3 linked regions of the Homo sapiens genome follow. The protein of the gene in region 3 purifies or fractionates together with the protein of the main gene of each other region. This does not show direct contact. Each region holds a gene or a part of one and is shown on either strand. Other genes may lie near its edges.

What was found.
Region 1: the proteins of EPS8L1 (region 3) and CYFIP2 purify together in Homo sapiens (co-immunoprecipitation; 2 studies listed by BioGRID and IntAct, with this or other methods). This does not show direct contact.
Region 2: the proteins of EPS8L1 (region 3) and CYFIP1 purify together in Homo sapiens (co-immunoprecipitation; 2 studies listed by BioGRID and IntAct, with this or other methods). This does not show direct contact.

Annotation. Positions count from the first base shown.
Region 1 is NC_000005.10:157,325,113-157,332,139, reverse strand, and holds part of CYFIP2 (cytoplasmic FMR1-interacting protein 2), read right to left. Parts: intron 6,659-7,027; coding exon 6,502-6,658; intron 5,970-6,501; coding exon 5,873-5,969; intron 4,168-5,872; coding exon 4,091-4,167; intron 1,399-4,090; coding exon 1,290-1,398; intron 1-1,289. UniProt on the Homo sapiens protein: Involved in T-cell adhesion and p53/TP53-dependent induction of apoptosis. Does not bind RNA. As component of the WAVE1 complex, required for BDNF-NTRK2 endocytic trafficking and signaling from early endosomes.
Region 2 is NC_000015.10:22,970,352-22,977,378, forward strand, and holds part of CYFIP1 (cytoplasmic FMR1-interacting protein 1), read right to left. Parts: intron 1-7,027. UniProt on the Homo sapiens protein: Component of the CYFIP1-EIF4E-FMR1 complex which binds to the mRNA cap and mediates translational repression. In the CYFIP1-EIF4E-FMR1 complex this subunit is an adapter between EIF4E and FMR1.
Region 3 is NC_000019.10:55,070,979-55,078,870, forward strand, and holds the start of EPS8L1 (epidermal growth factor receptor kinase substrate 8-like protein 1), read left to right. Parts: upstream 1-4,890; 5' UTR 4,891-4,941; exon of another isoform or gene 4,942-5,429; 5' UTR 5,430-5,466; coding exon 5,467-5,483; intron 5,484-7,109; coding exon 7,110-7,150; intron 7,151-7,892. UniProt on the Homo sapiens protein: Stimulates guanine exchange activity of SOS1. May play a role in membrane ruffling and remodeling of the actin cytoskeleton.

The DNA.
Region 1 (7,027 bases), on a different chromosome or scaffold from region 3:
TCTGCTGACATCCCAAATTTAGCCCTGGGGTTCTTTCTGCCATCTTTCTTGCACTCAATTCAGTCACCAGGGCACAGCAGCTGCCTCAGCAAGGGCCCACATTGTGCCTTCATGAGGGAAAATTTAAAAGCAAGAGGATGAAGGTCTGATTACAGAATGGAAAATATAACTTAAGGTACTTTCCACTGGGGTACACGCGGGCATTACTGCAGCTGCTATGTAGATAGCAATGAACATTTGTTGAGTACCTGCTGTGTCCACAGCACTTTGCTAGGTGTCAAATGATTATTCTTAACTATTTTATTTTTCAACTTCTCTTTTGGCATCAATTTTCTACCAACTGACCAGGGCCCCTTATAGCCATCTTATGCACACATAAAGCCCTCAGTATTTAATATCCTGTGGCTAATTCTGGCTGCATTGTAACCGATAGCAGTAATCTTCTGAAAGGGTGAAAGAAAAGCTCTCATTGAGCCCCTGTTGTTGACAGAAGTACAAATTCTATTTTTCCCCCCTCTTAATGATTCTCCATCTCCCTTGGATTTCTCATAGTAATGGGAATGTCCAGGGTTTCTGAGATGAATTCTTTCCTTTTCACCTCTGGCATGATCTTAGCCTCAGCCTGGCCCTTTCACAAAGACCAGGACCACATAATAAGCACACAGACGTCACAGCATAAAGGCCATTTTGCCACCCGCTTGGCCAACAGCAGGGCTGTAGGAGGAGGGCTCGACATCTGCTGGGGCATCTCTTATGCTGTCTGTCTGCCTCACATTAATATTATTAAATGGGGATGTTTCTCAGTTCCCAGCAACATCTCCTCTACATATAGGGTCAAATGTTAATAGAAACCAACTCTGCACACAAAAAACCCAATTTCTACCGTGGATTTGCCCTGACATGCTTTCATTTCAAAGGCGCCACAGTCTTCCTCACTTAGACCGGCACTTGGGCCCTGTTCAGGGACAGATTTACCCATCTCTAAGTGGCAGTCCCAGCTGAAAAAAGTGGGCTGCAGGTTATGATGAGAAGACAAAGGCTTTGGTTGCCATAACTTGTCAGAGGTTGGCTATAGATGGGTGGAGAAGCCCAGAACTTGAGCCAAAGGAAGCCCAATGCCTCTTTATTGTTTATGAGATCCTGAGGCTGTGCTACACCCAGGCTCGGAAATCCACACTGGCAACATGCCGGGCAGACAATACCCAGGCCTGATTTCTGATCTCTATGCTAACTTCGCAGCTGCTCTCTCCTGCCCCTTCCATCTCCAAGGTGGCTTCTGCTCCCCATACCTGGACGTGTCTCTGCTTCAGCAGTGTTTCATAGCGATTGGACGGTGGATACGGAATGATGACGCCATAATTCTTACACTCAGCTCGAAAACGTTTATCCAACAGGACACTGCAAGGAATAAAAGTGAAACAAGGCCAGTAAACAGATTGTGAATGACTCTCAACTGCCCAGATACATCTATTTCAGATCATAGGATCTACCCACAGAGCACTATCTTATATAACTTAAGTAAAATTGTTTTCTGCTCTAGACAAGTTACGTCAAATTTCTTTTCAGTCACAGAAGCTCAATATGTGAAACAGAGTTTCTAAGTTAAAGATGGGCAACACAGAAGTTGAGCCACTTTCCTCTTTTATTCATTTACTGCAAAAGCAATTGAGTGCCTGCTTGGTGTATCCCAGGAAACATTCTGGGTACTGGGAATACAAAGTTCCTGTCCTCATGGAGTTTATATTCGAGTGAGGAAAGACTGATAATATAAACACAAACAGAGGAATGGAATAATTTCAGATAATAGGTAACAGTTGCATAGTGTTTATTATTTCCCAGGCACTTTAAACACAAACACACACACACACACACACACACACACACACACACACACACACATTTTAAATCTCACCACAACCCTATGAGCTGAGAGTGTTACTATCTTTCACACTGAGGCATGGATTGCAGAGGAGAAGTGCTTTGAAAATAAGAAAATGGGATCATTTGGAGTTAGGAAGTCCAAAGTCTCTCTAAAGAAGTTTTGCTAAACAGAGACCTGAATGATAAAATTGGAAAGATCTAAGGGAACACTATCATTTACACAACAAGCTTGGTTACATTTAAGAAAAGGAAAGATGGCCAGTGTGGATAAAGTATAGTGCAGGTTGGAGAGCATGGTGCAAAATGAATTTATAACATGAGACCAGGGCCAAACCAGGTAGGGCCACACAGGCCATAGTAAAGTGGCTAGGTGTATTCTAGACATAACTAAAAGGCACCAAAAGGTTTTACGCAAGAAAGAGACACCATCTATATTTACACTGTCCAAAGTAGTAGCCACCAGCCACATGTGCCTACTGAACACTTGAGATGTGGCTGGTCCAAATTGAGATGGGCTGTAAACAGGATTTTGAGGACTTAGAAGAAAAGAATGAAAAATCTCTAATAATGTCTATATTGAGTGTATGTCAAAATTATAATGTTTTGGATATGTGGGGTTAAATAAAATATATTATTAAAATTAATTTCATCTGCTTCTTTTTCCTTTTTAAAATATGTCTGCTAAAAAATTTAAAATAACATCTCTGGCTCATATTTGTGGCCACATGGCATTTTGAATGAACAGGACTGACCTAGCTCATGGTTTTCTTCCTGGGCTTTCCCTGAATCTCTCAACCTCCTCAACTTCCCACACTTTAAAAAATCACTGATCTTACAGGGAAGGGTGTAGATAAAAGCCCATATGTCTGAAGAAGGAAGACCCAGGGTTCGACACGCCTGAGTCTGTTTATATAGATGATGGAACAGTGTATTTGGAATCAGAATTGTCTTACAGAAGCCAGAAACTCAACTCACTGTTAGAACCACATCCCATTCAATCCACAGATGCCTATTGACTACTTTGTGAAAGGCTGTGTTCTCTGCTTTCCTTGAAATCCTACGTGCATGCTTTCAATACTTTACAGCATTTAAGAGTCGCGTTATTTAATGCACATCCTGTGTTAACAGACACTTGTGTGTGCTGCACATCAACTCCTCTTTGAAATATATCAGGGCTACTTTGGCTGTTAAAAGCAAAATGAAGCAAATCCTTTTCATAGAAAAATTATTAAAGTAAGGAACTATCCTTGAAATTACTGGTTGGTATGTTTGGATTTCCAATAAGAAAGGAAATACCTATATATAAAATTTGAGGTTTTCCTCGATCAATGCTGTTACAGGTCCTTGAAACCCAAGAACTCACGAGGGTCTGAATCAACATATACTGGCAATACCAAGGAGCCTCTAAAGCTTGATACATCTCTGATCCAGACTTCTTCACTGGCCTCCTGTCTGGTTTGCACACACCCATTCCTCTCCAATTCATTCTCCATACATTTATATTTTTAAGAGAGTAAACTTTCAAAAGTAAATAAAAATCGAATCGGGTCACGGTTGTACTTTTGAAACCATTCGGAGGCATTCCACTCCCGGGAGAAACAGCTACAAAGCTGGTGTGCTCTGGCCCTGCCCACTCCCCAGCCTTAGCATGCAGCTTGCCCCCTCTAGTGGTGGTGAAGAGACACTGACATGTATTAATCCACAGGAATCCTCCCACAGCCCTGTGAAGTTGGCATGCTGTTATCATCATACTCCCACCGCAGGGTCCTTGCACAAGCAGTTCCTTTTGCCTGCAACGTCCTGCCCCATCCTTCACCTCGTTTTACTTCCTTCACTCCTACCAACTTCAGATAAGAACTCAGATGCCACTTCCGCAAGATGGCCTTTCTAGTTCCCCGCCCCCAAAGGTTTAACCATCGTACATTCCCATGAGCTTTTCCCTCACAGACAGCATGTAACCTCCTTGTCACTGTGCATTCATCGGCTTTTAGTCGATGTCTGTCTTTCCTGCTGGACTGCAGGCTGTGTGAGGTTAGCCCTTTATCTGCCTAGTTTCCTTTCCACTCTATCTCAGCACCCAGTCCGGGTCCGTGGAATGGCTCTGTTTTCCTAAGGTGCTAAAGAAGAAGGGAGGTTTCACAACAGAAAATCATGTCTTCTAGGTGGCAGTCTTAAGAGATTGCTACTCACAGCTCTGGGGCTTTCCTACCTGCCAGCCATGGCTTTGTAGTAAGCAAAGATCTGGTCTGCCAGCTTGTAGACAAACTGATCAAAACACAGGTTCACCTGGTGGAGAGGAAGCAGGAAACATCACTGGTGCCCGTTCAGCTTTATGACAGAAACTGAGCCAACTGAAAGACAGCAGTCAGGCAGGATTGCCCAGAGTGCATTCTGGGGAAAGACGCTTTGAAGGGGAAAAATATTCTGTGGCTAAGTTTGGGAGATTTGGTCCCTTGCTCTCAGGGTCCTCAGTCAGTGAACAGACAAGTCAAAGTTCAAAAAGGACCCAATCTCCCCACGGCCCCTCTCCTCAGCTGTTTCGAGGCCGCCTGCCTGGAGGGATGCAACAGACAGACTGTCAGAACCCATCAGTGCTCAAATTCGTCCGCTAACTCGGCAGCCTCCCCATCCATCTCTTCAGATGGATGTTATTTTCATTGTATTTTTCTTTGATTTGCAATTTTTTTTTTTTTTGAGACAGAGTCTTGCTCTGTCACCTAGGCTGGAGTGCAGTGGTGTGATCTCGGCTCACTGCAACCTCCGCCTCCCGGGTTCAAGTGATTCTCATCCTTCAGCCTCCCAAGTAGCTGGGATTACAGGCACCCACCACCATGCCTGGCTAATTTTTGTATTTTTAGTAGAGACGGGGTTTCACCATGTTGGCCAGGTTGGTCTCGAACTTCTGACCTCAGGTGATCCACCCACCTTGGCCTCCCAAAGTGCTAGGATTACAGGCATGAGCCACCACATGTGGCCACAAATTTGTTTATGAAGTTGATAGTCACATTTAAAAGCGCCTTCCTTCAAACTTTGCTTACATAACTTTGGTTTTTAATGAATAAAGTCTTGCCATTTCAGGGTCTCATCATCAGTGATAGACTGTGATGCTCAGGTGGGAAGATAATTCACACAGACATGAAGAATCAAACCAAATATTTCAGAAATGGCAAGAGCAGGACATGACCATGAGATGGGGCAAAGGCAGTAGCTAGGTAAGAGTCAAAGGAAACAGATCCTATTTACTGTCAGATTTAATATTTTAAGTCTTTCATGTTTAATATTTATGTGATTAACCTTTGGTCCTTTTTTCACCAGACTCTTGGCTCCATAAGGTTAATGATTCAAAAAGCTTTCAGATCTTTCATCTCACACCCTACGTGGTATGCAGAACACAAAACCCCAGCGCTGTGTTTAGTGCTTTCCTCAGACCCAGGTCACCGAGGCCTCTGACCTGCACTTTGAGCTTCAAGGGTCATCAGCGGACCTCCCTCCAGGCAAAGAATCCATAAGGTCAAGGTGGGCGTGTGCACTCAGGCCCCATTCTCCCCTTCTAGAACCAGTTCTGAGAAGCCTTCTACAGGCGGCTCAAGCCTCTTCCAGGGCCACGTGCTCTCTTCCCTGGCTTCCCCTCTGAGGGTGGACTCCACTATGGGTGTGTGTGACCCTAGGGTTTAGGTCTAGCCAAGGGCCACTGTTTTTGAGCAGAGTTGGCAGGCAGAGCTTGGGTATTTATACACATGCACATGAAGCCCTTCATGGTGCAGCACAGAGTTTGTGGGTGGGAAGAGAAAGGCAGCAGGCCCTGAGCTGGGTGTCTCAGTTTGTACTTCTGCCCTCAGAGGTTACACAGGCCTTCTGATGGCCATGGTTACAGAGATTCCTCTCCAGAACAAGTCACTGATACTCCTACTTCATGCTAATAGCAAAAGACTGGAAAAGTCCGGAATTTGGAACAAGATTAAAGGAGCAAAAAGAGAAGCACATCACTTGCCTCAGCTTCTATCTCATCGTACAGGAACTGCTTTTTAAACTTGGTCAGAGCATAGTAGGCGCTGTCGTTGTACAGATCCAGAGGGTAGAGGACATACCTGAAGAGGGAAAAACACAGCCAGCCGCTTGCTAATAACCCCCCTTAAGGAAGACAGCTTTATACTTGCTTGGGAAATAGAAACAAGTTCACAGTCAGGAAAAGACCATCTTTCATCCCTCTCTTACGTTCCTTGAGCCTCCACCGCTTAGAAGCAACTTACTTTACAGTCAGTCCAAAGAAAAAGTCCAGGGTGCAAATAAAACCAAGACTTGTAAAAATTCATTTGGGACTAAAACACATCAGGTAGCAGTTAAGAATACAAGCTACCTGCTCCTGAGATGATTCTTTTCTGAGCATAGCTGTTATGAGGCTGACAAGGCATAGGAAGGGCAGTTGGGCTGGGAAACTTCAGAATTTATCTGCAAGGCTGAATTAAATGATTCTGTCTGGCTGAGCTCTCCCTGTGGTGGGACATATGGCCTCATTTCTTGTCAACTCAGTGCTTCCTTCTGGAAAGAACGGATCTCCCTGGCAAACTGCCCTCTACTTGTACCCCAGGAGCCACTTGCTGGCCCAATCCTGCCTCTTACTCCATCATGGAAGGTTCTTTGGTTTCCAGGATATGGTCCGTTAGAATCCAGGGCATGGACATCTCGATGGGGAACTGGATTCGTCGGCCCATGGTTAACTCCAGGAAGAATTCTCGGAACCAGAGCTGGGAGAGGTCACAACACTGCTGCAGGGCTTCTGAAAGCATAAGGGAACGAGCCTTTGGTTACTTTTAGAACTAAAAGACCTTAGTTCTCATTGTTTTTATTAATTTTCATTGTTATTGTCACTGTGTTAGGTATGTAGCAGGTACTAATATTGATTAGTAGATCCTGCTCTCTTTTACTTAAAGGCAAGCCTAACATCTACTGCCTCTCAAGCATTTGTTAAGCTTGAGAGGCAGTGGTTGTGGGCTGGTGGGGGAGAAGAGGAGGCAGTGATGTTTTAGAGCTTTAGATGCCCCTATAGTTCCCATCCCTCTCCTACAAAGCCATCACTCTCCTACAAAACCTGCAACCTAAGCATGAAAAGTACGCTCGTGGCCGGGCGCAGAGGCTCATGCCTATA
Region 2 (7,027 bases), on a different chromosome or scaffold from region 3:
AAGATGACAATACAATCCAAAGCCTTCTAAAGACTCAATGCAATCCCTTTGAAAATTCCAACAGCACTTTGTTTTTGCAAAAATAACCCATTTTAAAATTCATAGGAATCTCCAAGGACCCAGAATAGCCAAAGCAATCTTGAAAAAGATGAACAAAGTTGGAGACTTCACTCCTTTTTATTTCAAAACTTACCATAAAGCTACAGTAATTGAAACAGTGTGGCACTGGCATAAAGAAAGGCATACTGGCCAATTAAACAGAACAAAGAACCCAGACATAAACCTTCACATATGTGGCCAAACAATTTTCAACAATGATGTCAAGATCATTCAATGGAAAAAGAATAGTCTTTTCAACAAATTGTGTTAGGAAAACTGAATATCCACACATACATGAATTATGTTGGACCATTACCTTATATAATATACAGAAAAGTTAATTTGGCCTGGCGTGGTGGCTCACTCCTGTAATCCCAGCACTTTGGGAGGCCGAGTCGGGCAGATCACAAGGTCAAGAGATCGAGACCATCCTGGCTAACACGGTGAAATCCCGTCTCTACTAAAAATACAAAAAATTAGCTGGGTGTGGTGGCGGGGGCCTGTAATCCCAGCTCCTAGAGAGGCTGAGGCAGGAGAATCGCTTGAACCCGGGAGGCGGAGCTTGCAGTGAGCCGAGATTGCGCCACCGCACTCCAGCCTGGGCGACAGAGCAAGGATCTGTCTCGAAAAAAAACCAAACACACACACAAAAAAGAAAAGTTAATTCAAAACAGATCAACGCCTAAACATCGGATCTAAAACTATAAAACTCTTAGAAGAAAACAGGAGAAATGCTTCATGACATCAGATTTGGCAATGATTTCTTGGATATGACACCAAAAACACTGGCAACAACAGAATTAATAGACCAGGTGCTGTTGCTCACATCTGTAATCCCAACACTTTGTGAGGATGAGGTGGGAGGATCACTTGAGCTCAAGAGTTCAAGACTAGCCTGGGCAACACAGCTAGACCTTGTCTCTACTAAAAAATAAAATAAGGCTGGGCGTGATGGCTCATGCCTGTAATCCCAGCACTTTGGGAGGCCAAGGCAGGCAGATCGCTTGAGGTCAGGAGTTCCAGACCAGCCTGACCACCATGCAGAAACCCTATCTCTGCTAAAAATACAAAATTAGCCAGGCGTGGTAGTGGGCGCCTGTAATCCCAGCTTGAGTAGCTTGAGGCTGAGGCAGGAGAACTGCTTGAACACGGGAGGCAGAGGTTGCGGTGAGCCAAGATTGCGCCATTGCACTCTAGCCTGAGCAACAAGACCAAAACTCTGTCTCAAAAAAAAAAAGAAAAAAGAAAAAGAAAAGAAATAAAATAAAAAGTAGCTGCACGTGGTGGCTCACACCTGTAGTCCCAGACACTCAGGAGGCTGAAGTGGGAGGATCGCTTGAGCCCAGGATATCAAAGCTGCAGTGAGCCATGACTGCACCACTGAACTCCAGCCTGGGTAACAGCCTAGGTAACTCATCTCAAAAAATAAATAAACAATAGATAGTACCCAAAGCAATCTACAAATTCAATGCAATCTACAGGTTCAATGCAATCTACAGATTCAAAGCAATCTACAGATTCAATGCAATCTACAGATTCAATGCAGTCTCTATCAAAATACCTACCATATTCTTCATGCAAATAGAAAAAGAAATCCTAAAATTTGTGTGGAACCACAAAAGACTTGGAATAGCAAAAGCTATCCTGAGCAAAAGAACAAGGCTGGAGGCATCACACTACCTGACTTCAGAATATACTACAGAGGCTGGGCATGGTGGCTCCCGCCTGTAATCCCAGCACTTTGGGAGGCTGAGGTGGGCGGATCACCTGAGGGCAGGAGTTCGAGACCAGCCTGGCCAACATGGTGAAACACCGTCTCTGCTAAAAACAAAAAAATTAGCTGGGTGTGGTGGCGCACGCCTGTAATCCCCAGCTACTCAGGAGGCTGAGGCAGGAGAATCGCTTGAACCCGGGAGGCGGAGGTTGCAGTGATCCAAGATTGCGCCATTGCACTCCAGCCTGGGTGACAGAGTGAGACTCCGTCTCAAAAACAAAACAAAACAAAAAAAACTACAGAGATATAGTAACCCAAACAGCACACTATTGTCATAAACACAGACACATAAACCAATGGAACAGAATAGAGCCTGGAAATAAATGCATGCATTTGCAGCCAACTGATTTTTAACAAAGGTGCCAAGAACACACAATGAGAAAAGGATAGGTTCTTCAATAAACGGTGTTGAGAAAACTAGATACACACATACAGAAAAATAATATCAGACCTTGGCTTCTCAACATAGACAAAAATCAACCCGAAATGAATTAAAGACTTAAATGTGGCCAGGTGCGGTGGCTTAGCCTATAATCCCTGCGAAGCCCAGGCAGGGGGATCACCTGAGCTCAGGAGTTTGAGACCAGTCTGAGCAACATGGTGAAACCTTATTTCTACAAAAAAACACAAAAATTAGGCGGTGGCTCACACCTGTAATCCCAACACTTTGGGAGGCTGAGGCAGGAGGATCACTTGAGGTAAGGAGTTTGAGACTAGCCTGGCCAACATGGTGAAACCCTGCCTCCACTAAAAATACAAAAATTAGCCGGGCATGGTGGTGCACACCTGTAATCCCAGCTACTCAGGAGGCTGAGACAGGAGAATCGTTTGAACCTGGGAGACAGAGGTTGCAGTGAGCCAAGATCGCGCCACTGCTCTCCAACCTGGGCGACAGAGTGAGACTCCGTCTCAAAAAAACAAAACAACAACCAACCAAAATTTAGCCAGGCATGATGGTGCACACCTGTAGTGCCAGGTACTGGAGAGGCTGAGGTGGGAGAATTGCTTAAGCCCAAAAGGGCAAGGCTGCAGTAAGCCATGATTGCCCCACTGCATTCCAGCCTGGGTGACAGAACGAGACCTTGTCAAAAAAAAAAAAAAAAAAAAAAAAGGGAGAAGAAACTCCCTAACCATTAGCAGTTATTCTCACTTTTTCTACCCGTTCTTCACTGATCCTCTCTCCCCTGCTTTCTGGCCCCAGGCAATCACCTGTCTACTCTCTGTCTCTGTATATTTGCCTATTCTGGACTTTCCCCCTTGTATCTAACTGTAAATGTGTATCCTTTGACCAACATCTTCCTCTCTCCCCTTCCGCCAGCCACCCCAGCCTCTGGTAACCACCATTCTGCTCTGTTCTTCTGTGGCATCAGCGTTTTCAGATTCCACATGTGAGTGAGATCGTGCAGTACTTGTCTTTCTGTGCCTGGCTTATTTTGAGGAAATAAAGCCTCAAAAGCAAAGGCCACAAAAGAAAAAATAGACAAATGGGATTACATCAAACTAAAAATGTTCTGCACAGCAAAGGAATCAATCAACAAAGTGACAATCTACAGAATGCAGGAAAATATCTGCAAACCATATAACTAATAAGGGATTAATAATGAAAATATACAAAGAATTCAAACAACTCAATTGTAAAAGATCTGAATGGATATTTCTCAAAAGAAGGTGTACAAGTGGCCAACAGGTGTATGAAAAAATGCTCAACATCGCTAATCATCAGGGAATCCAAATCAAAACCACAATGAGCTATCACCTCACACCTGTCAGACTGGCTCTTGTCAAAAAGGCAAAAGATAACAAGTGTTGTCCAGGGTGTGGAGAAAGGGAAACCCTTGTACACTGTTGGTGGAGATGTAAATCAGTATAGCCATTGTAGAAAACAGTGCCGGGGGTTCCTCAAAATATTAAAAATAGAACTACCATATGACCCAGCAACACCACTGTTGGGTATATATCTAAAAGAAATGAAATCCGTATGTCCAAGAGATCGCTGTACCCCATGTTTATTGCAGCACCTTTCACAACAGCCAAGACATGGAATCAACCTAACTGTCCATCAACAGATGAGCAAGGCCGGGCCTGGTGGCTCACATCTGTAATCCTAGCACTTTCAGGAGGAAAGGAGGATTGCTCCAGCCCAGAAGTTCAAGACCAGCCTGGGCAACATAGTGATACCCCATCTCCATTTAAAAAATAATTAAAATTAAAAAAACAAAAACAGGCCGGACACGATGGCTCATGCCTATAATCCCAGTACTGGGAGGCCGAGGCAGATGAATCACTTGAGGCCAGGAGTTCGAGACCAGCCTGGCCAACACGGTGAAACCCCTTCCTCTACTAAAAATGCAAAAAAATTAGTCAGGCTTGGTGGCACCTCCTGTAATCCCAGGTACTTGGGAAGCTGAGGCATGAGAATCACTGGAACCCAGGAGGCGGAGGTTGCAGTAAGCTGAGATCACACCACTGCACTCCAGCCTGGGTGACAGAGTGAGACCCTGTCTCAAAACAAACAAACAAAAACTGGATTATGGTGATGGTTGTTGCACAGCTCCAGAAATCTTCTAAAAATTATTGTATAGTTGTCCCTGAAACAACACGTGTTTGAACCATGCGGGTCCACTTATTTGCAGACTTTTTCCAGTAAAAGTTACACGGTGTATGCCTGCCTCTCTAGCCCCTCCTTCCACCTCCCTCCACTTCTGCCTTTGCCACCCCCAAGACAGCAAAACCAACCCATCCACTTCCTCCTCCTTGGCCTGCTCACTGTGAGCTTTTTGAGGATGGAGACCTTTCTGATGATCCACTTCCACGTGATGAGTAGTCAGTTTATTTCCTCTTCCTCATGATTTTCTTAACAACATTTTCTTTTCTCTAGCTTACTTTATTATGAGAACACAGTATGTAATACATATAACTTACAAAATCTCTGTTAATCAACTGTTTATGTTATCAGTAAGGTTTCTGGTCAATAGCAGGCTATTCGTAGTTTTAACTTTTGGGAAGTCACGTAGTTTTAACTTTTGAGAAGTCAAAAGTTATACTTGTCCAGCCTGGCCAACATGGTGAAATCCCATCTCTACTAAAAATATAAAATTAGCCAGGCATGGTGGCGGGTGCCTGTAATCTCAGCTACTCAGGAGGCCGAGGCAGGAGAATCGCTTGAACCCGGGAGGCAGAGCTTGCAGTGAGCCGAGACAGAGCGAGACTCCGTCTCAAAAAAAAAAAAAAAAAAAAAAAAGGTTAAAGGCCAGGCTCGGTGGCTAACGCCTGTAATCCCAGCACTCTGGGAGGCAGAGGCAGAGGCGGGCAGATCACCTGAGGTCAGGAGGTCGAGATCAGCCTGACCAACACAGTGAAACCCCCTCTCTACTAAAAATACAAAATTAGTGGGAGTGGTGGCGCATGCCTGTAATCCAAGCTACTTGGGAGGCTGAGGCAGGAGAATGGCTTAAACCCAGGAGGCAGAGGTTGCAGTGTGCCAAGATCGTGCCATTGCACTCTATCCTGGGCAATAAGAGCGAAACTCCATCTCAAAAAAAGTTACACTCGGATTTTCAACTGCACAGGGGGTTGGAATCCCTAACCCCCTCGTTCACAGGCCAGCCAAACGTATACTTAAAAGTAGGTGAATTTTATAAAGTAGGTATATTATACCTCAATAAACAAAATTTTTGTTTAAAATTTTTGTTTTTAAAGCATGCTAATATTTTTAAATTGGAATTGGGTTAAATTTATAGATCAATATGAAGAGAACTGATGTCTTTACTATGTTGAGTGTTCCAACCACTGACCATGGTATGTTCCCCCATTTACTTAAATGATCTTTGATTTCTCTCATCTTCAGCATACAGATCCTGTAAGTCTTATTCAATGTATACCTAAGTATTTGATTCCTTTGAAGCAAACGAAATGTTGTGTTTTTAAATTTAATTTTCTTTTTTTTTTTTTGAGACGGAGTCTCGCTCTGTTGCCCAGGCTGGACTGCAGTGGCGCGATCTCGGCTCACCACAACCTCCGCCTCCCGGGTTCAGGCGATTCTCCTGCTTCAGCCTCCTGAGTAGCTGGGACTACAGGCGCACGCCACCATGCCCAACTAATTTTTGTATTTTTAGTAGAGACAGGGTTTCACTATGTTGGCCAGGCTGGTCTCGAACTCCTGCCCTTGTGATCCGCCCGCCTCGGCCTCCCAAAGTGCTGGGATTACAGGCGTGAGCAACCACGCCCAGCCAAATTTAACTTTCTAATTGTACATTGCTAGTACAGTAGTCCCCACTTACCTGTAGTTTCATTATCTGCAATTTCTGTTTCCCCAGTTATAGCTGCCTACAGTCAACTGCCCTCCAAAAATAGGTGAGTGCATACAAAAAGATATTTTGAAAGAGAGAACACATTTATATAACTTTTATTCAGTATATAATTATTCTATATTATGAACAGTTATTGTTGGTAATCTCTTACTGCGCCTAATTTGTAAATTAAGCTTTATCATAGGCATAGATGTATAGGGAAAAAAACCACAGTACACGGAGGGTTCTGTCTTATCTCAGGTTTCAGGCTTCCATTGGAACGTATCGTCCATGGATAACAAGGACTGTTGTAAACAGAAATAAGGTCAGCTTGTATAGTGTTGACTTTGCATGTATCTCCCCATGGATAAGGGGCACTGCTGTATGCAGAAATAAGGTCGCCAGGCCGGGCCCGGTGGCTCACGCCTATAATCCTAGCACTTTGGGAGGCCGAGGCAGGCGGATCACCTGAGGTTGGGAGTTCCAGACCAGCCTGACCAACACGGAGAAACCCCATCTCTACTAAAAACACAAAATTAGCCAGACATGGTGGCACATGCCTGTAATCCCAGCTACTCGGGAGGCTGAGGCAGGAGAATCGCTTGAACCCGGGAGGCAGAGGTTGCGGTGGGCCGAGATCGCACCATTGCACTCTAGCCTGGGCAACAAGAATGAAACTCTGTCTCAAAAAAAAAAAAGAAAAATAAGGTCGCCTTCTGTGTGTTGACTTTGTATCTTGTGACCTTGCTAACCTCATTAATTAGTTCTAGTAGCTTTTTCATAGATTCCCTGGATTTTCTATGTAGATAATCATGTTGTCAGCAAATAGGGACAATTTTCCCTTTCCAATTTGTATGCCTTTTCT
Region 3 (7,892 bases):
GTGTTGGGTGGTGTGGGGGTGGGGATAACGGAGGAGATGGGGGGTGAGCTCTTCAAGCCCCAGGGGAGAATTCTGTTCCGTTCCTGGGACATCCCAGGTGAGAGGGAAGAAAGGCCAGCCCCCCAAGACAGCTATCCCAGACTGGGACAGAGGCAAACCCTGACCACAGAGCCCTGTCACTCACCCAAGAACAGGTGCCAATGACAGAATAGCCAGGCCGAGGGGGGAGAGAGGTGCTTCGGTGATGGATTTCCCTGGTGACTTGCCAAGACAGGGCTTTACTGCCTCCGCCCTGGACTGGCTGAGTCAGACTGTGCAGGGGTGGACACTTTGACTGGTATTTGGGAGGCATTTGCTGTGGGTTACAGAGAGGGAGGGGCCTCCTTTGCGGCCAGAGAAGGAGGAAAGAGGCCCTGGGCCCTGGGACTTGGGACTTGGGTGGAGGCTCGGGTTTCGGTCTCACCTGCTGCTCCAGACCATGGCCTGGAGGGCCGCCTGCGCCACCCCCAAAGCAATGAGATAGCCCCTCCTCCCTCAGACCCAGGAGTCCAGGCCCCCAGCCCCTCCTCCCTCAGACCCAAGAGTCCAGACCCCAGCCCCTCCTCCCTCAGACCCAAAGGCCTCGGACCCATACCAAATGCTTCTATGAGATAGTTTTCTCCCCTTGTTCATGAAGAAATGAGCCCAGGCCCAGTCAGATCTGCATCTGTGTCACAGCCCAGGGCCACTGTAACCTTAGGCTACTGACTTCCCTCTCTGAGCCTCTGTTTTCTCCTGTCAATGGGGCAAGGGGTCTGCTCCTTCCCTCAAACCCCAACTCAGGTACAGTCAAGCACAGAAAATACTTGTGGCATGAATGTGATGAGAACACAGAATTGCAGAAGCCAAAGAAAGAGAAGCGTAAGGGCCCTCCTTCCACCCCTACCTCCCCCACCCGCTGCTACACGCACCAGGACCACCTGCTGGGTAGCCAGGAGCTCACAGTCTAGCCCCGCTGGCCACCCCTGCAGCCCCCATCCTTCACTCAGGCAGTTGCAGGGCCCAGAACACCCCTATCTTCTAGGATTGACACTGGCTGTCAAACTCATCCTTCAAGGTGATTCCTGGCCTGCCCTCCTCCTCCAGGCAGCCTGTCCTCCTCCTCCAGGCAGCCTGTCCTGACCCTCAGCAGCCTCTCCTGGCCTTGGCAGAGCCCCTCGTGTCCTCCCTTGCAGCACGCATGGGAAGAAAGGCCATCGTCCTCGCCATTGCTAACACCAGCCTTGCGTTTCCTCTTTGCCAGGTACTGTATTGACAACTCTCTATAACCTGACTTTATCCTCCCAATAAGCTGGGTGTGGTGGGTGGCTCATGCCTGTCATCCCAGCACTTCGGGAGGATAAGGCAGGAGTATCACATGAGCCCAGGAGTTGGAGACCAGCCTGGGCAACATAAGGAGACTCTACTATATATATGTGTATATATATTTATATATAGTCTGAGATGGGAGGATCACCCCAGTAGGTCGAGACTGCAGTGAGCTGTGATTATGACACTGCATTCTAGCCTGGGCCACAGAACTAGACCTTGTCTCAATTAAGAAAAAAAATGGGGATAATAGGACCCATTCCATAGGATGTGGTGAGGATTATGCATACACACACACACACACACACACACACATTTATGATGTACTGAGAAGATATAAGCACACAATAAGTATCTCCAAAATTATCAAGTGGCAAAGCCAGGATTCAGACCCACACCTGCCCGAGGCTCTCTGCCATCAGACCACACTATATCTCTTTCTCTCTGTTCCTTCATCCCCATCAATCGAAGGCAAAAATGTGCCTTCTCTGATTTCCAGGCTCACTCAGCATAGACCGTGGAGGCAACATATCTTGAATGAAGCAACAAAGCAGTAATGCACATGAATGCACCAAATGCCAAAAGCTCGTTTACTCAACAAGTATCTCTCCAACACTTTCTATGTGCTAGACCCAATTCTGTGTGCTGCAGATTAAGTGGAGGACTGATCACACAAAAATCTTTGCCCTTGTGAAGCTTGCATTTTTTTTTTTTTTTTTTTGAGATGGAGTCTTGCTCTGTCACCCAGGCTGGAGTGCAGTGGAGCAATCTTGGCTCACTGCAATCTCCACCTCCCGGGTTCACGCCATTCTCCTGCCTCAGCCTCCGGAGTAGGTGGGACTACAGGCACCCACCACCAAGCCTGGTTAATTGTTTTGTATTTTTAGTAGAGACGGGGTTTCACCATGTTAGCCAGGATGGTCTCAATCTCCTGACCTCGTGATCCACACGCCTCGGCCTCCCAAAGTGCTGGGATTACAGGCGTGAGCCACCACACCCGGCCGCTTTTTTTTTTTTTAAGATGGAGTCTCGCTCTGTCACCCAGGCTGGAGTGCAGTGGCACGATCATCTCGGTTCACTGCAACCTCCACCTCCCAGGTTCAAGTGACTCTCTTGCCTTGGTCTCCCAAGAAGCTGGGATTACAGGTGTGCACCACCAACTCTGGCTAATTTTTTTTTTTTTAGTAGAAATGGGGTTTTATCATGTTGGTGACATGGTGTGATCTCGGCTGACTGCAACCTCCACCTCCGGGGTTCAAGCAATTTTCTTGTCTCAGCCTCCCAAGAAGCTGGGATTACAGGTGTACACCACCACCCCCGGCTAATTTTCATATTTTCAGTAGAGACGTGCTTTCACCATGTTGGCCAGGTTGGTCTCGAACTCCCAACCTCAAGTGATCAATCCGCCTCAGCCTCCCAAAGTGCTGGGATTACAGGCATGTGCCACCGTGCCCAGCCTGTGAAGCTTGCATTCTAACGGAGGAGACACAGACAAAATGAACCAGGAACACAGTGGGTAAGAAGGTGAAAAGTTCTCCACACAAAAATGAAGTAGGGAGAGAGGAAAGAGACTACAAAGAAGTTGGGTTGCCGGGGGCGGTGGCTCACACCCATAATCCCAGCACTTTGGGAGGCCGAGGCGGGCAGATCACGAGGTCAAGAGATCGAGACCATCCTGGCCAACATGGTGAAATGCTGTCTCTACTAAAAGTACAAAATTAGCCGGGCGTGGTGGCGCGCGCCTGTAGTCCCAGCTACTCAGGAGGCTGAGGCAGGAGAATCACTTGAACCTGGGGGGGCGGAGGTTGCGGTGAGCCAAGATTGCGCCACTGCACTCCAGCCTGGGCAACAAGAGTGAAACTCTGTCTCAAAAAAAACAAAAGAAGTCGAGTAAGGGATGCCGCCATTTGAAACAGGGTGGTCAGCCAGTCCTCTGAGAAGGTGACATTCAGGCAAAGATCAAAGGAGGCAAGAAAGTGAGGCATGAGGGTATCTGGTAGAAGAGCATTCCAGGCAGAGGAAACAGCAAGTGCAAAGGCCCTGAGGCAGGACCGGGTCTGGATGTTCCAAGAGCAGCAAGGAGGCCAGTGTGCTGACACACAGAAGGAAGAGATGAGATCAGAATCACGTCCCTTAAGGCCTTGCAAGATGTCAGCTTTTTTTTTTTCTTCTTTTTTGAGACAGAGTCTCGCTCTGTCGCCCAGGCTGGAGTGCAATGGCGCAATCTCGGCTCACTGCAAGCTCCGCCTTCCAGGTTCACGCCATTCTCCTGCCTCAGCCTCCCGAGTAGCTGGGACTACAGGTGCCCACCACCACGCCCGGCTAATTGTTTGTATTTTTAGTAGAGACGGGGTTTCACCGTGTTAGCCAGGATGGTCTCGATCTCCTGACCTCGTGTTCCACCCGCCTCGGCCTCCCAAAGTGCTGGGATTACAGGTGTGAGCCACTGCGCCCGGCCTGTTTTCTGTTTTTTGAGATGGAGCCTCGCTCTCTTGCCTAGGCTGGAGTGCAGTGGTGCAATTATCGGCTCGCCGCAACCTCTGCCTCCCGGGTTCAAGTGATTTTCCTGCCTCAGCCTCCTGAGTAGCTGGGATTACAGGCACCCGCCACCACACCTGGATAATTTTTGTGTTTTTAGTACAGATGGGGTTTCACCATGTTGGCTGGGCTGGTCTCGAACTCCTGTCCTCAGGTGATCTGCCTGCCTCGGCCTCCCAAAGTGCTGGGATTAGAGATGTGAGCCACTGTACCCATGCAAGTTTCTTAACCCTTCTCTTCCTCATTTTCTCATCTGTGAGACGAAGACAGCCTCCCACCCAGACACACTCCCCTCACGGGGCTCTGGGGAGAAATGATGTGGAAAGCTTTGCTAGTAACCTCTACAGCATGGAGGGAGTTCTGGAAAAGTGATTTCAGAAAGGTGTTTATGCCTGGAAAGCCTGTTCATTTTTGTGATGTCCTTGGAGCTGGGCCAGGCATTATCGAGCTAAATCTTAGCTTTTGTCAGAATAGGGGGGTCATTGAGGGAAATTTCCAAAGGAAGGTGGAACGGGATGGGTGGGGAGGTAAGGGCATGAGCAGAGGCAGTGATCGTGGGCAGGAGGTGTCCATAGAAGACGGGCTGCCACTGGCCCTGGAGACAGAAGGTCAGCCCCGGGTTCAAATCCCTCCTTAACCAAGTGCTGAAATGGACAAGTTGCTCAACCTCTCTGGCCTTCAGCTTCCTCATCTGTCAAGCAGGAATCAAACCTCGAACTTCCTCCCGCTGTTAGAATTTCAAGGGAGTTTTAAAGACAGAGCTTTCAACTCTGACCTGTGAACAAGTGTGACATCAAATGTACTGTTCGTTGCTATTATTCTGTTGCTACAAGGCAGACAGTTAGTTTCCCAGCTCCCCTGCAGTCCCCCCAGCCCCTCCTAGATCTGTCTGCCAGCCCCGCCCCGGGGTCACTCCAGCCAGGCTGTGCCAGGTGAATGCTCAGGTATGCGGAGGCGGAGGCGGAGGCAGGACGGCCCTGGGAGGGAGCAGGAGGAGGGGCCGGCAGCCTGGAAGGGAAAGGACAGCGGAGAGCAGGGCAGAGCCTGAGCAGGCAGGTAAGGAGATCCGGGTCAGGAGAGAAGGGGGCCGGGGCTTGACCAATGGGTCTGAGGGACGGGGGGACTGGGGTCTGGACTCCAGGGTCTCAGGGAGGACGGGCTGGGGGTCTGAACTCCCGGGTCTGAGGGAGGAGGGCCTGGGGTCCTGGACTCCTAGGTCTGAGGGAGGAGGGGCTGAGGGCCTGGACTCCTGGGTCTGAGGGAGGAGGAGATGGGGCCTGGACTCCTGGGTCTGAGGGAGGAGTGGACTGGGGTCTGGACTCCTGGGTCTGAGGGAGGAGGGGACTGGGGTCTGGACTCCTGGGTCTAGGGAAGAGGGACTGGGGCCTGGACTTCTGGGTCTGAGGGAGGAGGGGCTGGGGGCCTGGACTCCTGGGCCTGAGGGAGGAGGGGCTGGGGCCTGGATGCCTGCATTGAGGGAGGAGGCTGGGGTAGGAATTAGAGGCTCCTACTGGCCAGGCCTTCACATGTTTGCTGGCTCCCAGGGCACCTCCAGGTGGGCAGGAGCTACCACTCAGCACCATGAGCACCGCCACAGGGTAAGCGCCCCCGGACCCCAGGTCCCAGCCCCAGCACGCCTCCCGCCTCCCCTCGCCTCCTCACCCACACCCGCTTGCGGCAGCCCAGACTGTTTGCGGCGGCCCAGACTCTGGCCCAAGCCCCGACACTCAGGAGGAAGCCAGAGCCTCTCTCCTCCCTGCCCAGCCTGGGGTTAGGGGCCCCCACTGCAGAGCAGACAGGCCTGAGCTCCAGTTCGGCCCTCACACTCAGTGCTGATGTAACCCTGGTCAGAGGACATCACCTCCTGGAGCCTCAGCCCCTCCTCTGTGACACAGGGACAATGTTGAAAAATTGGAGGGATAGTGCATTACAGGACTTAGCTGACCACCTCACTGACAGCAGGTGCTCAACTCATAGGAGTCGCTATTGCGATTGTTATGTTGTTAGTAAATATTAACCCTTTGCTAGAAAATCAGGGCTGTTTATAATGAAGACTCAAGTCCCCCAGAGTAAGCAGGGAGAAAAACAATGAGAGATGAGTCAAAATACCTGCATGGTAGGTAGTGAGCTCTCTGGCCCAGAGGTAATCAAATTGTGGTGACATCAGACTGGCAGGAGCAGGATGAGGAACAGGAGTTTGGGAAAAAGGGTTTTTCAGTTCCCCTGACGCCACCTGATCGCTGAGCTTCTGTTATGTGCATGCAAGTGGGGATTCAAGAATTCTTAGGAAAGGTAATCTTAGGAAGAAATTGAGGACGGGAGGAGACAGAGAAGGATGTGGTTGGGAAGCACCTGGCCCATGGGAGTGGGAGGGGAAGCAGATAATTCCCTGTCTACTTCAGATACCACTAATGCTATTATAACCATTCCCATTTATTGAGCAACTTCTGTGTGCTAAGCCCTGGCAGCATCTTAAGAATGATAATAACAGTTATTGAGGCTTCAAAATACTTCACCTGCATCATCTGACTGAATTTGCCCAACAGCCCTACCAGATGGTTACTACGTTACAGAAAGAAAAACTGAGGCAGGAGAGATTAAATCCTCTTCTGAAGGTCTTATGGCAAGGAGGCAGTAGACAGAGGGTTTGAATCCCGGACTATGCCATGGTAGAGATCACACTCCCCTACCACCCAGCACCACCGCCTGACCTGACCTGTCTTTTTTTTTTTTTTTTTTTTTTTGAGATGGAGTCTCACTCTGCTGCCAGGCTGGAGTGCAGTGGCACGATCTGGACTCACTGCAACCTCCGCCTCCCAGGTTCAAGTGATTCTCCTGCCTCAGCCTCCCACGTAGCTGGCACTACAGGCGCCCACCACCACACCCAGCTAATTTTTGTATTTTTAGTAGAGACAGGGTTTCACCATGTTGGCCAAGATGGTCTCAATCTCTTGACTTTGTGATCCGCCCACCTCTGCCTCCCAAAGTGCTGGGATTACAGGCGTGAGCCACCGCGCCCAGCCTACCTGTCTTCTTAAAGTCCAGCTCTGGCTCTGAGCTCTCCTGCTCAATAATAATAATAATAATAATAATAATAATAATAATAATAACCCTTCCATCGCTCCCCATTACCTTCGTCATGAAGCCCTTGCTGCCCTGCTTGGCATTTCCACAGGATCTGCCCCCAGTCCCACAGTCTCTCTCATTCCTCTTTTCTTCACCAGCCCAGAAGCTGCCCCAAAGCCAAGCGCCAAGTCTATCTATGGTGAGCGGGGGGCAAGGGAGCCCCAGGCCCATAGAACTGGGTCTAAAGAAACAGGACCTGGCATCCAGGGTCTTGGAGGAGGAGGGGCTGGGGGTCTGGACTCCTGAGTCAGAGGGAAGAGGTGCTGGGGGTCTGGACTCCTGGGTCAGAGGGAAGAGGGGCTGGGGGGCTGGACTCCTAGGTTTGAGGGAGGAGGGGCTGGGGGCCTGGACTCCTGAGTCAGAGGGAAGAGGTGCTGGGGGCCTGGACTCCTGGGTCAGAGGGAAGAGGGGCTGGGGGGCTGGACTCCTGGGTCAGAGGGAAGAGGGGCTGGGGGGCTGGACTCCTGGGTCAGAGGGAAGAGGGGCTGGGGGGCTGGACTCCTGGGTCAGAGGGAAGAGGGGCTGGGGGGCTGGACTCCTGGGTCAGAGGGAAGAGGGGCTGGGGGGCTGGACTCCTGGGTCAGAGGGAAGAGGGGCTGGGGGTCTGGACTCCTGAGTCAGAGGGAAGAGGGGCTGGGGGGCTGGACTCCTGGGTCAGAGGGAAGAGGGGCTGGGGGCCTGGACTCCTGGGTCAGAGGGAAGAGGGGCTGGGGGCCTGGACTCCTGGGTCAGAGGGAAGAGGGGCTGGGGGTCTGGACTCCTGGGTCAGAGGGAGGAGGGGCTGGGGGGCTGGACTCCTGGGTCAGAGGGAAGAGGGGCTGGGGGCCTGGACTCCTGGGTTTGAGGGAGGAGGGGCTGGGGGCCTGGACTCCTGGGTCAGA